Linked DNA regions of Homo sapiens: region 1 is linked to region 2. The links come from fine-mapping of genetic effects on gene expression. Tissue or cell type: monocytes after R848. Region 2 holds a variant in brackets; the other region holds the start of a gene. All regions are shown on one strand. Distances are from middle to middle.

What was found. PIP is the estimated chance that this variant, and not a neighbour inherited with it, causes the effect.
Region 1: it holds the start of PRORP, and the variant in region 2 is fine-mapped to the expression of PRORP in monocytes after R848 (Quach 2016, PIP 0.91).

The regions. Positions count from the first base shown.
Region 1 is chr14:35,118,308-35,125,982 of GRCh38, reverse strand. It overlaps PRORP (protein only RNase P catalytic subunit), which reads right to left and starts at 3,431. Exons shown (of 8, transcript NM_014672.4): 1 at 3,348-3,431; 2 at 1,752-3,031. The coding sequence starts at 2,737. PPP2R3C (protein phosphatase 2 regulatory subunit B''gamma) reads left to right here and starts at 3,993. Exons shown (of 13, transcript NM_017917.4): 1 at 3,993-4,081. The coding sequence starts at 4,024. It overlaps PRORP-PSMA6 (PRORP-PSMA6 readthrough), which reads right to left and starts at 4,144. Exons shown (of 15, transcript NR_182666.1): 1 at 3,931-4,144; 2 at 1,752-3,031. RefSeq lists enhancers at 2,938-3,447, 2,531-3,450, 3,458-3,537, 4,078-4,207, 3,451-4,370 and 1 more.
Region 2 is chr14:34,971,463-34,979,137 of GRCh38, reverse strand. All of the region lies in intron 1 of SRP54-AS1 (SRP54 antisense RNA 1), which reads left to right. Among named protein-coding and RNA genes, the nearest start is that of SRP54-AS1, 7.3 kb to the left of the region's middle. The variant A/G (reference allele first, on the strand shown) is at 4,315.

The DNA.
Region 1 (7,675 bases), 150 kb before region 2:
GGCGCCATCACAGCTCCCTGCAGCCTTGATTGACTCCCTAGATTCAAGTGATCCTCTTGCTTCAGCCTCCCAAGTAGCTAGGACTACCGGCACACACCGCCATGCCAAGCTAATTTTTGTATTATTTGTAGAGACAGGGTTTCACCATGCCCAGGCTGGTCTCCAACTCCTGGCCTCAAGCTATCCTCCCACCTCAGTCTCTAAAAGTGCTCAGATTACAGGCGTGAGCCACAGCACCCAGCCAAATCCAGCATTCTTGATAACAGAATAAAATCCAAACTCCTTGGTATTCAAAGATTTTCACAAATGGGCTCCTCCTCCCTTGATCTTCAGTAAGTTTAAGATAATTAAGCATAATTACTGCTTCAAAGCTCCGTAAACATGATATAGGGGAAAAAAAGGCAAGAGAAAAACAGAGGGAAGGAACAAATTTTTAGGAAGCAAATTAATGAAGAAATAATGACTAAGCATGGTGGCTCACACCTGATCGCTTGAGGCCAAGAGTTTGAGTCCAGCCTGGTCAACACAGCAAGACCCCACCTCTTAAAAAAAGAATATTAATTTTAAAAAATAAGTAAAAATTTTCAAAAATTTTAAAAAAGACTAAAGCAATAAACAGGTATGTACCCAGTAACATGAATAAAGCAAAAGCAAACCAAAGGAGAGAGCTTTAGAGAGACAGCAGCCAAATGATAGAAAGGTCCAAAACAAACTGGAAGGGTTAAGATTTTCCATTGTAATGCTTACGTATAAGGCTTGATCAATATCCCCCTGTCCACTCTAATCATCCAAGTTGATGAACTATAGATAGTAGACAGAATAGGCCGGACGCGGTGGTTCACGCCTGTAATCCCAGCACTTTGGGAGGCCGAGGCAGGCGGATCACCTGAGGTAGTTCGAGAGCAGCCTGACCAACATAGAGAAACCCCGTCTCTACTAAAAAGAAAATAGAAAATTAGCAGGGCATGGTGGCGCATGCCTGTAATCCCAGCTACTCGGGAGTGTGAGGCAGGAGAAAACCCGGGAGGCAAAGGTTACAATGAGCCGAGATCATGCCATTGCACTCTAGCCTGGCAACAAGAGCAAAACTCCGTCTCAAAAAAAAAAAAAAGGGAGAGAGTAGACAGAATAAATATAAGCATATTATCTCAGTCGCTAGATTTCAGAGGAACTTCTGAAAATACTAATATGGCCAGAGACAGTTCTAGTCAAATGCTATATTCTTTTCTTGCTATGAACAGTGGCCATAAGTAGTATTAAGTACTCACATCATACTAGATGCCTAAGAAAACAAAATTAATGATCCTTCCAAAAGGAAAAAAATGTAAAAATTAAAACTGCTATATAATTTCAGTTTTATGTGATGGGTAAAGATTAGCACAAATTATGTATGTTGTTACTTTTTTTAAAGAGAGAAAATTTTGTCGTAAAGAGAAAATAAATCTTACTAAGAGATGGAAAAAAGTATAATCAGAAGAGTGATTCTCAGCAACTAACAACAAAAAAGAATGGCTACTTTGAGGTTTAAAGTTATTAAATTAAAAATAATTAGCCAGGTATGGTGGCACATGCCTGTGGTTTTAGCTACTGAGGAGACTGAAGCGAGAGGATCACTTGAGGCCAGGAGTTTGAGGTTACAGTGAGCTATGAACACACCACTGCACTCCAGTCTGGGCAACAGAGCAAGACCCTGTCTCAAAAAAAAAAAAAATTAAAGAATAAAAACATACATATAAAAAAACCAAAATTACCTCTCAAACCATGTTTTTATACTGTGTGCAAATGACTCCCCTGGATACAGCTGATTATTTCTTAGATATGAAAGAATATCTAGTAGTTTATTTGAATAGTTATCATCCTTTATGTCTTTTCCAAAATCAAAGAAAGCTTTTAAAGTTTCCAACATAGGAACAATATCATGACCTAGCAATTCCTGATATAAATTCCAAGCTGTGTTTACATCTTGATGAAGGAGAGCTCCCTGGATACAGTCATTATAGTTCTTTTTTGAAGGAGTTATAACTTTTTTGATGTCCTCTAACAGCAACAATGCTTCTCTCCATCTGTCTGAATGGATCAATCCCCGGATGAGAAGACTGTAACCTCTAGGTTCTAAAGTCTTATATCTGGCTTTCATAATTTCAAAGACATCAATAACTTCAGATGTCTGCATATGAAAGACACAGAGATACAAATACTTGACCAGTAAATCGTAACTTACAATACCATTATTTTTGGCTGCTACCCATGCCAGCAGAGATTTAGCCACATCTATAGAGCTATGACAGCCAGCCATCTGTGAAATGATCCAACTTTCGAAACTGGTCTTTCCGGTGTTTTCTTTTAAATCTTCCTTAAGTTTATCCCACTCCTCTGAATTCAAAGGTTGTGTTGGGAGTTGAATAGTGTTCCTCACAGGTGCCAAGGCATGATCTTCAGTTTGAGAATTCATCTGTGATCTCTCCTTAGCTGCTCCAGCTAAAAAAAAATGAGGAACAGAATAAACTTGCTTATTACTGCCCTCATCTTTCCTGAGATATCTGGCCTTGGCAATCAGATTCGTTGCTTTGGTATTCTGTGGAGACATTGTTTTAAGAGAAAACAACCTCTGCTGGTTCCTGATGCCACAGCGGTCTGCCAGAAACAGCGAGACATAAGAGTGCCCTGGGCCTAGCCCAAGGTATGGGCTCTTCCAAAGCTTCGGAAAGCTTCGAATACCAAACAAATAGAAAGTCATTATGCAGTGAGATCAGCACCAGATAGTGAGAGAGATGTTGAAAAAACCCCTCTTCTATGGCAAAATTAAAGAGATTGGGGGTCGGCGGTGCAGAGTCGAAGTGGAACTTTTTAAAAGGTTTGTGTTTCTTCCTTACAGACAAATCAAGGTTCTGCTTTTGGGGCTACTTAAAAGCAAGAAGGCAGGTGAGTTTTCTCTATTAAACAACAATCCGGGGATGTCCAACGTCGCAAGCCGCAAACCAGGGGACAGAGCAGGAATCCTCTGGTGCCTCTTACATTCCAGTTCATGAACCTGAGGAAAAAGCACAAGACGGAACGCCCAGTTTTACTCACGTGGATCACAGCTGTCCTGAAAAGGAACAGATTCCCACGGGAAGCTTGCTGGAAAGGGGGTGTAAAGCCAAAACCGTATCCAGGGACCCCCAACTCCAGCCTACCACCAACAGCGGCGAAAGCCGAAGTCTAGGGGCCCTCACCCTGCATAGCTCTCTACAGACCGCAAAACTCCTCCGGTGGGGGGACGAGGAGGGAGGAGGTGGCGAGTCAGCTGCGCCAACGACTCAGGAAAGGAAGAGAGGTACAGGAAGGGCGCTGCCTAGACTGCGTACCGAACGCTGACAAATGAAGTTCACTTCATTCAACAACTCAAAGCGGCACTCAGACTTAACGCGGCCATAAACGCGGCGGAAACTACAGTGCCCACGATGCACCGCGCCAGCCCCGACCGACGGACGAGACTGACCCGGACTTAGGCGTTCCGCCTGGCCCGGCGGCGAGGAAAAAAGGCAGTTTTGAAGCATTTAGTGGCAAAAGGGGTAGGAGACGGCTGCTGAAGTGTCTACTACATTCAGGGGACCTGGAAGGCTTCCAGATATCCGCAATGAACAATGAAAAGAAATTGTGAAAGAAGGCGCTTCCCTCAAGCCGGAACTAATGAACTCCTGGGTCACGTGGTGCGCACGCGCCAAAGGCACACGATAAAGGAAAACGCGGGCTTATCGTGGCCTTTAAAATCCGGCTTGGTGAGCTTGGGTCGCCTCTGAAGGAGAACCATTTTCCATCTCTTTCATAGTTTTTTCCCCCAGTCAGCGTGGTAGCGGTATTCTCCGCGGCAGTGACAGTAATTGTTTTTGCCTCTTTAGCCAAGACTTCCGCCCTCGATCAAGATGGTGGTTGGACGGCCTTCCTAACCTTTACGGGGCCTGGCGGTGCTGACGCCTGAGCTGGTAGGGGTGGAGCAGGTAGGAAACAGCAAATGCAGAAGCTGCTGCGCGGAAGTCGGCCATGGACTGGAAAGAAGTTCTTCGTCGGCGCCTAGCGACGCCCAACACCTGTCCAAACAGTGAGTTTTGGGAGGGGCAGCCCGTTGGGATGGCCCGGCCCTAAACTCCTAGAGGTAGGGGGGAGGTGGGGAGGAGGAGCAAGGGGGAGCCGCCTTTTCCGCTTCTGTGAAACCTCCCGACAAAGGAGGCGGAGTGGAATGTGGTTTAAGGATCCCGATAGGTTTGACCCAAACTTTCCTGGGGCAGAATCTAGAGGAACGAAAAACTTAGCTTTAGTCACTGACTTCCATGGTCTTAATCTAAACTTGTGAAGAATAACTTGGAACCCCGGCTCCAACAACGCCTGAACCCCACCAGGACCTATAATTGTCCTCCTGCCTTTTTACTGTCACGCTTTTTGCTTCCCTCGTAATCCATTTTATATTTCATAATCCATTTTTCCTTTTATTTTTCTCCTTCACATTGCTTATTAACTAACCTCGTTAAATCTACCTTTCCTATTCCACACCCGCACTAAGGGCTGTTGAAAGTGGCTGGAGAAAAACAGAACCTTGGTGAGTTGTCTCACTTTTTTTTTTGAGACGGAGTCTCTTGCTCTGTCGCCCAGGCTGGCTGGAGTGCAGTGGCAGCATCTCCGCTCACTGCAACCTCTGCCTCCCGGGTTCAAGCGGTTCTTCTGCCTCAGCCTCTGGAGTAGCTGGAACTATAAGCGCGCGCAACCACGGCCGGTTAATTTTTGTATTTCTAGTAGAGACGGGGTTTCGCCATATTGGCCAGGCTGGTCTCAAACTCCTGACCTTGTGATTCGCCCACCTCGGCCTCCCAAAGTGCTGGAATTACAGACGTGAGTCACCGCGCCCCGCCGAGTTATCTCACTTTTAATACAAGTCCACTAATCTAAAGAAGGTGTTTTGGTCATGTCTACCGTGTTTTCCTGGACGTTCATTCTCCTACATTCAATTTTCATCTCCCAAACTGCCAATCTGTGTTTTCCTAAATACACTTTTTTTTTTCCGATACAGGATCTCCCTGTGTTGCCCAGGCTGGAGTGCAGCGGCGCAGTGAAGTATTGCTGCAACCTCGATTTCCTGGGCTCAAGGGATCTTCCCACCCCAGCCTCTTGAGCAGCTAGAAGTACAGGCACACGCCACCACACCCGGCTAATTTTTTATTTTTAGTGGAGATGAGGTCTTGCTATGTTGCCTGGGCTGGTCTCGAATTCCTGGCCTCAGGCAGTCTTCCTACCTCCACCTCCCAAAGTGTTGCTATTACAGACGTGAGCCGCCGCACCCAGGCAACACTCTTTTACACTATTCTTCTCATCTCCTACACCTGCAGTCTGTCCTACCCGCTTCTTACTTTAAGCTGATGAACTTGTATTTTAATATATATCTCATTAAGAAAGGAGAAGCAGTCGGCCGGGCGCGGTCGCTCAGTCCTGTAATCCCAGCACTTTGGGAGGCCGAGGCGGGCGGATCACGAGGTCAGCAGATCGAGACCATCCTGGCTAACACGGTGAAACCCCGTCTCTACTAAAAATACAAAAAAATTACCCGGTAGTGGTGGCGGGCGCCTATAGTCCCAGCTACTCCAGAGGTTGAGGCAGGAGAATACCTTCAACCCGAGAGGCGGAGCTTGCAGTGAGCCCGAGATTGTGCCACTGCACTCCGGCCTGGGCGACCGAGCGACACTCAGTCTCAAAAAAAAAGGAGAAGCAGTCAGAGGAGAACATCACCTGTCCCCCTTAACATTTCTTTCAGCCCCACAACCCCACAGTTAGTTGCCCATACACTCTGGCTTCACTGTTAAAATGATGAACTGATGCCGGGCGCGGTGGCTCAAGCCTGTAATCCCAGCACTTTGGGAGGCCGAGGCGGGCGGATCACGAGGTCAGGAGACTGAGACCGCAGTGAAACCCCGTCTCTACTAAAAATACAAAAAATTAGACGGGTGCGGTGGCGGGCGCCTGTAGTCCCAGCTACTCAGGAGGCTGAGGCAGGAGAATGGCGTGAACCCGGGAGGCGGAGGTTGTAGTGAGCCGGAGATTGTGCCACTGCACTCCAGCCTGGGCGACAGAGCGAGACTCCGTCTCAAAAAAAAAAAAAAAAAAAGATGAACTGTCCATGCTCCTATTTAAGAGTCCCTCCAGTCCACCACTAGATTGCATTCTTTTCCCTGTATTCACTGACTTCCTTCCAGCCTCCTCCTTTCTTTCCTACATCATCAGATTTTCCTTCTGCTGGATCATTTACACCAGCACAAACGTGCTGTTAATATCACCCATCTTTTTAAAAGGTGGGTGGTCGGGGGTAGTGGTGTTGGGAGGCTCGGTGGCTCATTCATGTAACCCCAGCACTTTGGGAGGCCGAGATGGGAAGATCGCTTGAGGCCAGGAGTTTGAGACCAGCCTGGGCAACATAGTGAAACACCGTTTCTACAAAAATAGAAAGTAAAAAATTAGCCCGGGTGGTTGTGCACCACTGTAGTCCTAGCTACTCGAGAGGCTGAAGCAGGGAGGGTTGTTTCAGTCTAGGAGTTTGGGGCTGCAGTGAGCTATGATCATGACACTATACTGCAGCCTGGGTGACAAGAGCCAGACCCTGTCTTAAAAAAAATTCATTTGGGCTGGGCACTGTGGCTTACACCTGTAATCCCAACACTTCGGGAGGCCGAGGTAGGCAGATCACTTGAGGTCAGGAGTTCAAGACCAGCCTGGCCAACATGGTGAAAGTCCGTCTCTACTAAAAATACAAAAAGTAGCTGGGCGCAGTGGTGCACACCTGTAATCCCAGCTACTTGGGAGGCTGAAGCGGGAGAATCGCTTGAACCCAGGAGGCAGAAGTTGCGGTGAGCTGAGATTACGACACTGCTCTCCAGCCTGGGCGATAGAACGAGACTACATCTCAAAAAAAAAAAAAAAAGTCATTTGATCCCACATCCCTCTCCAGCTTCTGTTGCATTTCTCTGCACTCTTCATAGGAAAACTTCTCAAAGAAGTTACCTGTACTTGGCTGGGCGCAGTGGCTCATGCCTGTAATCCCAGCACTTTGGGAGGCTGAAGTGGGTGGATCACCTGAGGTCAGGAGACAGACCAGCCTGGCCAACGTGGTGAAACGCTCTCTCTACTAAAAATACAAAATTTAGCCGGGCATTGTGGCAAGTGTCTGTAATCCCAGCTACTCAGGAGGCTGAGGCAGGAGAATCACTTCAACCCAGGAGGTGAAGTTTGCAGTGAGCCAAGATCGCGCCACTGCCCTCCAGCCTGGGTGACAGTGAGACTCAGTCTCGGAAAAAAAAAAAAAAAAAAGGAAGGTACCTGTACTTGTACTTTGTGTGCTTTCTTGACCCCTTAACTCTTAAACCCACTGCATTCTTTTAGCAGATATTTATTGCATGCCTGTTTTGTGCCAAGTACCGTTGTAGCTTATAGCAGAACACAAAAAAATCTCTGTCTTTGTAGAACTTACACTTTAGTGTGGAGAGAAATAATAAAATAATAAGTAAATTATATAGGTTGTACAGCACCTGCGTAAGTCTGGTTCCTTCATCAGTGTACTAGATCCTATCCTTTGTAGTAGATTCCATTTTTGCCTGCTGAAGGATGTACTCTTGCAGTTGTCCCTTCTCCTGTATCATCAGTTTTTCTTTAATCA
Region 2 (7,675 bases):
CCACCGCGCTCGGCCCTATTTTTACTTTTTTTAAAGGTACTTTTTGTTGTTTTTAAAGAAAGGGTCTCACTCTGTCACCCAGGCTGGAGGCTGGTGTGCCGTGACACTGTTATAGCCCACTGCAGCTTTGACCTCCTGGGCTCAAGCAGTCCTCCTACCTCAGCATCCTGAGTACCTGAGTAGCTGGACTATGGTGCAAACCACCACACCCAGCTTTTTTAAATTTCCTGTAGAGACAGTGTCTCACTATGTTGCCCAGGCTGGTCTCAAACTCCTGGCCTCAAGAGATACTCCCACCTTGGCTTCCCAAAGTGCTGGGATTACAGGTGTGAGCCATCGTACCTGATCTAAAGGTACTTCTTGTGCCTCTCTTCAGCAGATCCTGTAGTGAGGAAGCTCAAGCAATTTGTTAAACAATTTAAAAAATAACTTGAGTTTCTGAAGAATGTTTATTAACCCGAATATTTTAAGAAGTGAGGCCGGGCATGTGGCCCACTCCTGTAATCGTAGCACTTTGGGAGGCCGAGGTAGGTGAATTGCCTAAGCTCAGGAATGTGAGACCAGCCTGGGCAACATAGTGAGAACCTGTCTCAAAAAAAAAAAAAAATTAAAAATTAAAAAAAATTTTAAGAAGTGAGAGTATCACTGAACTTAAAATAAAGGAGTATGGTTATTTATAATCCTTAAAAAAAGTAGTGTATTAGTATACCTTCTTTATTGTGGTAAAATATGTATAAAATAAAATTTACCATTTTGACCTTTTTTTTTTTCCTTCAGACAGAGTCTTGCTCTTTGCCCAGGCTAGAGTGCAATGGCACAATCTCGGCTCACTGCAACCTCTGCCTCCCAGGTTCAAGCGATTCTCCTGCCTCAACCTTCTGAGTAGCTGGGATTACAGGCGTGCACCACACCTGGCTAATTTTTGTATTTTTAGTAGAGATGGGGTTTCACCATGTTGGCCAAGCTGGTCTCGAGCACCTGACCTCGTGATCTGCCCACCTCAGCCTCCCAAAGTGCTGGGATTACAGGCGTGAGCCACCACGGCCAGACCATTTTGACCATTTTTTACTGTATAGTTAAGTGGCATTAAATATGTTCACGTTGTTTTGTAAATATCACTATTAATCTCCAGAACTCTTGTCTTCCCAAACTGAAACTCTTAGTATACCTTTTTATGAAGTGGTCTAAGTACAGCACAAAATATTCTTCTAAACAACCATTTTTCATTTTCCTAATTAGATTTCCTTTTGCCTGGGGAAATTTGTTTTTTTTTTTTTTTTTTTTTTGAGACGGAGTCTCGCTCTGTTGCCCAGGCTGGAGTGCAGCCTCCTGAGTAGCTGGGATTACTGGCACATGCCACCAAGTCCGGCTGATTTTTATATTTTTAGTAGAAGTGGGGTTTCACCATGTTGGCCAGGCTGGTCTCGAATTCCTGACCTCAGGTGATACGCCCATCTCGGCCTCCCAAAGTGCTGGGATTACAGGCCTGAGCCACTGTGCCTGGCCTCTCCTATAATTTTTAAATAAATTTTTAAACCTCTGGCATTAAGTCATTTAAATAATGTCTTGCATGACATTTGCCTAGACTTTTAATTTAAATTATAACTCTTCTTGAATTTTTATACCATTTGATGGAATAACAAAAGACAACGCTAGATGTTGAGTATGGCTTTGGTTTTGAGTTTCATAAGAGTTTATTAAAACTAGACAACATGGCTGTGTGCAGTGGCTCACGCCTGTAATCCTGGCACTTTGGGAGGCAAGGCAGGCAGATCACCTGAGGTCAGGAGTTTGAGACCAGCCTGGCCAACATGGTGAAACCCTGTCTCTACTAAAAATACAAAAACAAAAAATTAGCCAGGCATGATGGTGTGCACCTGTAGTCCCAGCTACTCGGGAGGCTGAGGCAAGAGAATTGCTTGAACCCAGGAGGCTGAGGTTGCAGTGAGCCAAGATTGCGCCACTGCACTCCAGCCTGGGCAACAGAGTGAGACGCCATCTCAAAAAAAAAAAGGAAAAAAGAAACATAAAACAAAGGTGGGAGCCTAGATGTTTCTTTGTACAGCTTAGGCTAGGAAATAATGAGCACTAGTGTCAGACAGGTAAACCAAGTCTGAGGGGCAATGCAGGCAAAAACAAGTTCCTCTCCCCCCAAAAAAAGATAAAAAGCAGTTAAAATACAGCAGTACTGGAACTCATTGATTCTGATCCTCTGGCAGAGTATCTTTTCCCTACTATTTTCCTGATGTGTATGAAGTGGGCTCTTGACCTAGATTTCAAAGTGTAGGAGACTGATTGCAATCCATTAAGTGAGGGGAGTTGAGAACCAGATCTGCAAATGGGGTCCCCAATAGGGCAAATAGAAAAGATACAATGCAACAGCAGTCTATTAACAAATTCTACTCTGAAGGCTCTCAGTATTTCCTGAATATGCAAAATAGAAATAAATGAGGACATTAAACCAATAACTCATACAAAGTCTCTCCTTTTCTTTTTTTTTTTTTTTTTTTTTTTTGAGATGGAGTCTTACTCTGTCACCCAGGCTGGAGTGCAGTGGCGCGATCTCAGCTCACTGCAAGCTCCACCTCCTGGGTTCACACCATTCTCCTGCCTCAGCCTCCTGAGTAGCTGGGACTACAGGCGCCTGCCACCACACCCGGCTAATTTTTTTGTATTTTTTTAGTAGAGACGGTGTTTCACCGTGTTAGCCAGGATGGTCTTGATCTCCTGACCTGCTGATCCGCCCCGCTCGGCCTCCCAAAGTGCTGGGATTACAGGTGTGGGCCACCGTGTCTGGCCCATGCCTGGCTAATTTTTGTATTTTTAGTAGAGACAGGGTTTCACCATGTTGGTTGATCTCCAGCTCCTGACCTCAGATGATCCGCTCACCTTGGCCTCCCAAAGTGCTGGGATTACAGGCATGAGCCACCGTGCTGGGCCTCTTCTTTTAGACAGTCTCGCTGTGTCACCCAGGCTGGAGTGCAGTGGTGTGAACACAGGGCTCACTGCAGCCTCAACTTCCCAAGTTCAAGTGAGCCTCCTCCCTCAGCCCAAGTAGCTGGGATTATAGGTGCGTGCCATCATACTTGGCCAATTGTTGCATTTTTTGGTAGTGACAGGGTTTCACCATGTTGCCCAGGGTGATCTCATACTCCTGAGCTCAATTATTTCACCAACCTCAGCCTCCCAAAGCACTGGGATTGCAGGTGTGAGCCACTGCGCCCAACTGCTCATACAGTTTCTATTAAGGATCAAGGTACAGAGGGTAGAAAATTAAGGTTTGCAGGAAGGAAATTAACCAGATAGTCAAGAAATATTTAAATGCTTAAAATAACAAGAGGTGACTAGACACTTACAGGAGATTCTCTGTATCCTTTGTTGTAAACACCTCAATTGAACATGTTGCTGAGCAGTAGCTACAGAGCTTTTATAGGTTCTACTAAATGAATATAATTGTACTTTTCTCTCAATCGCATTTGTTGTCTATTAAAAATGGCCAGGATATGTGAAAAGAATAATACATCATGGGCTAGTGGGTTTATCTCAGGAATGTCCTGTTGGTTTAACATTAGAAAATCAATGTAATTCACCAAATTTGCTAAAACATACATACAATCATACATCATGTAACAACAGGGACAGATTCTGAGAAATGCACTGTTAGGCCATTTCATTGTTGTGCGAGCATCATGGAATGTACAGTACTTACTCAAACCTAGATTGTATAGCCTGTTGCACCTTCTACAAACCTGTACAGCATGTTCCTGTAGCAACTGTAGGCAGTTGTAACACTATGGTTAGTATATGTGTATCTAAACATAGAAAAGGTACAGTAAAAATATGACATTGTAATCTTATGGGACCACCATGGTGTGTGCAGTCTGTCATTGATGGAAGTGTCATTATGTAGTACGTGACCGTATTTCAGAATTGTTAAGAGAGTGGGTTTTGGCCAGGCGCGGTGGCTCAAGCCTTTAATCCCAGCACTTTGGGAGGCTGAGATGGGCGGATCACCTGAGGTCAGTTCAAGACCAGCCTGACCAACATGGAGAAACCCCATCTCTACTAAAAATACAAAAAATTAGCCGGACGTGGTGGCACATGCCTGTAATCCCAGCTACTCAGGAGGCTGAGGCAGGAGAATTGCTTGAACCTGAGAGGCGGAGGTTGTGGTGAGCTGAGATGATGCCATTACACTCCAGCCTGGGCAATGAGAGCGAAACTCTGCCTCAAAAAAAAAAAAAAAAAAAAGAGGGTGGGTTTTAAATGTTCTCGACGCAGAGAAATAATAAATTTGGCCAGGTGCAGTGGCTC[A/G]TGCCTGTAATCTCAGCACTTTGGGAGGCTGAGGCAGACAGATCACCTGAGGTCGGGAGTTCGAGACCAGCATGGAGAAACCCCATCTCTACTAAAAAAAAAATACAAAATTAGCCAGACGTGGTGGCGCATGCCTGTAATCCCAGCTACTCAGGAGGCTGAAACAGAAGAATCGCTTGAACCCGGAAGGTGGAGGTTGCGGCAAGCCGAGATCACGCCAATGCACTCCAGCCTGGGCAACAAGAGCAAAACTCCCTCCCAAGAAAAACAAAGAAATAATAAATATGTGGTGATGAATATGTTAGCCCGATTTGATCATTCTACAATGTATACATTCTACCCCATAAATATATACAATTATTATTTGTCAATTAAAAATAAAATTTTAAGAAAATGGCTGAGTAGACTTGTGATATGGAGGGCCTTAAAAATCTCAAGATTTGATACACTGAAAAATAGAAGATCATTAAAAGTTTGTAAGGAGAGGGAGTGATATAAAAGTGAGGTTTAAGCGAGATTCGTTTAGGTGAACAAGGTATTTTATAGTGGGGAGAAGCTGATATTGAGGAACTGGTTATGAGTTTGTAATGGTATTCAGAGTGTGAGATGATGACTATGGCTATGAGATAGTTGAATTGAGAATGAAGGGAAAATAGGTTTCAAAAGAAAAAGTGGTGGGACTGAATACCTGACTAGATACAAAAAGTGAGGTTTGATTCATAGGCTGTCAGCTTTGGGGACTTTTCTTTCCTCATATAATTAATTAGATGTAAGTAGGAAATTTTAAAGAATTGATTTTGCCCTTTAGAGAAGCTCTTCTTTCTCCATTCCCTTCCCCTCTACATATGTAATTTGAGGAAAGCTCTACTCTCCTTTAGGCAGCTGATTAGCACCTTCCTTTAATCTTTTTCCAAGCAACGTAGTATTACCACACATTTGCTGTTTATGTGTTAAGAGATGTTCCACCTCACTAGTAATTAAATAAATGCAAATTAACCAGGTTTTTTAGTTTTTTTATTTTTTCAGGTAGGATCTCACTCTGGTTGCCCAGGCTGGAGTGCAATCGTGTGATCACGGCTCGCTGCAGCCTTGACCTCCCAGGCTCAGGTGATCCTCCCACCTCAGCCTCCCAGGTAGCTGGGACTATAGGCATACACCACCATGCCCAGCTACTTTTTAATTTTTTTTGTAGAGATGGGGTTTCACCATGTTGCCCAGGCTGGTCTCAAACCCCTGGACTCAAGCGATCTGCCTGCCTTGGCCTCCCAAAGTGCTGGGATTACAGGTGTGAGCCACCGTACCCTGCCCAAGTTTGTTTTTATGGTAATATTCAGTGTTGTGAGGGTTTGATGAGACTTGTGTTCTTTTTTTTTATTTTATTTTTTATTTTTTGAGAGGGAGTCTCATGCCCAGGCTGGAGTGCAGTGGAGCCATCTCGGCTCGCTGCAACCTCCACCTCCCGGGTTCAAGGAATTCTTCTGCCTCATCCTCCCAAGTAACTAAGATTACAGGCATGTACCACCATGTCCAGCTAATTTTTGTAATTTAGTAGAGACAGGATTTTACCATGTTGGCCAGACTGGTCTCGAACTCCTGACCTCAAGTGCTCTGCCTGCCTCAGCCTCCCAAAGTGCTGGGATTACAGGCGTGAGCCACCACGCCCAGCCAGAGACTCGTGTTCTTTTTTATTTCTGTTAAACTGATGTCCTTCAAGAAAGAAAGAAATGTGCAAATGTGTAGGAAAAGCCTTTTCAATGTTGAAGCACTTCTAAGAATTTATAGTAAGGAAATAATCAGAGATGCAAAGAGATGATGTTTGTCAAAATGTTTGTTGCAGTATTCTCAGTTTTACACAATTATAACTATATTTAACTGTCTCAGGGTAGCAGTGAATGGTTAAATAGAGACTACACAGCCTTCAAAAGTAAAGTTTCCACTAATTTTAATTTTAATGACATAGCGTAAATGCTTAGGATATGCAGTGGGTTCTCCATGTCCACAGATTGTACATTTGTACATTGATCCAGCAGAGAATTGAAAGTATTTCAAAAATAATAATATACTATTTTTAGAAATAGAGCATAACAACTTTTTTTTGAGATGGAGTTTTGCTCTTGTCGCCCAGGCTGGAGTGCAGTGGCACAAATCTCGGCTCACTGCAACCTCTGCCTCCCGGGTTCTAGCGATTCTCCTGCCTCAGCTTCCCAAGTAGCTGGGACTACAGGTGCCTGCCACCACACCTGGCTAGTTTTTGTATTTTTTTAGTAGAGACGGAGTTTCACCATGTTGGCCAGGCTGGTCTCGAGCTCCTAATCTCGGGTGATCCACCCGCCTCGGCCTCCCAAAGTCCTAGGATTACAGGCATGAGCCACTGTACCTGGCTGCATGTCTGCTACTCTTGAATTGACATCGCTACTTATGTATCTAAAATGGCAGGGTATAGATGGTGCCACTAGTCTCTCATCAGGATACTTTCCATTAAGGTTAGTGGAACTGCGCAACCATTCATAGCTCAGATTCATCAGTCACAAAAGAACCCCAGAAGATGATGGTGTTCATAAAAAACAATTTTCTTTAGTATTTTGGTTCTGCTTTAATCTTAATCCCTAGGGTAATAGATGAGATACTCAAGTTCAGAGAGGTGTGGAAGTCATTTGACAGAGCAGTCGGGCCCGAGTGGTTTCCTTATGCCAAGGCAGCACGTCATCCTTTTTCCTCAAAAATAACAGCAACAACATTCCTGCACCTTGCCTCTGCAGCATTATATCGTACTGCAGAAACCAGCTCAACTATGCAAAACTACCACCAGGACTGGCCGACACCAGGAGGGATTCCAGAGACCACACTGCAGGGAGCATACAGAAAGAAAATTAAGAGATCAGGTCAGTTAGCATTCACTGATGAGCAATGGGAAAGTCTCAGCTTATGGTGTCACACCAGAATGCACCTGATGTGCATTCTGATAATGCAACACTTAGATCAAAAAGCAAGAGGAGAAGTGAATGTCTGACATCATTGACTGAGGATAGTTCATGAAGAGACAAATAAAAGTAAATATGTTAAATTTACTGTGAGTGCTTCTTAAAGTTTCTCCTATTCTTCCTAACCCCACAGTCTCTTTAGCCTAATCAGCCCTAAATTTGGTTTTAAACAGTTTTTCATGTAGTGCTTCAGCCATGTCCCCAATTCTTTTGAGTCCTCAACCCTTTGACTCATCAGTACTATTCATTCAACAAATATTTTTTGAGAGTATCCTGTTTGCCAGGCTCTGGAAAAACAATCAAGGCCCAACAAGAGCCAATGATGTGATCCTAACTACATCCATGTCCTTGTTTTTTCCTCTGTTCCATTTCCCTCACTT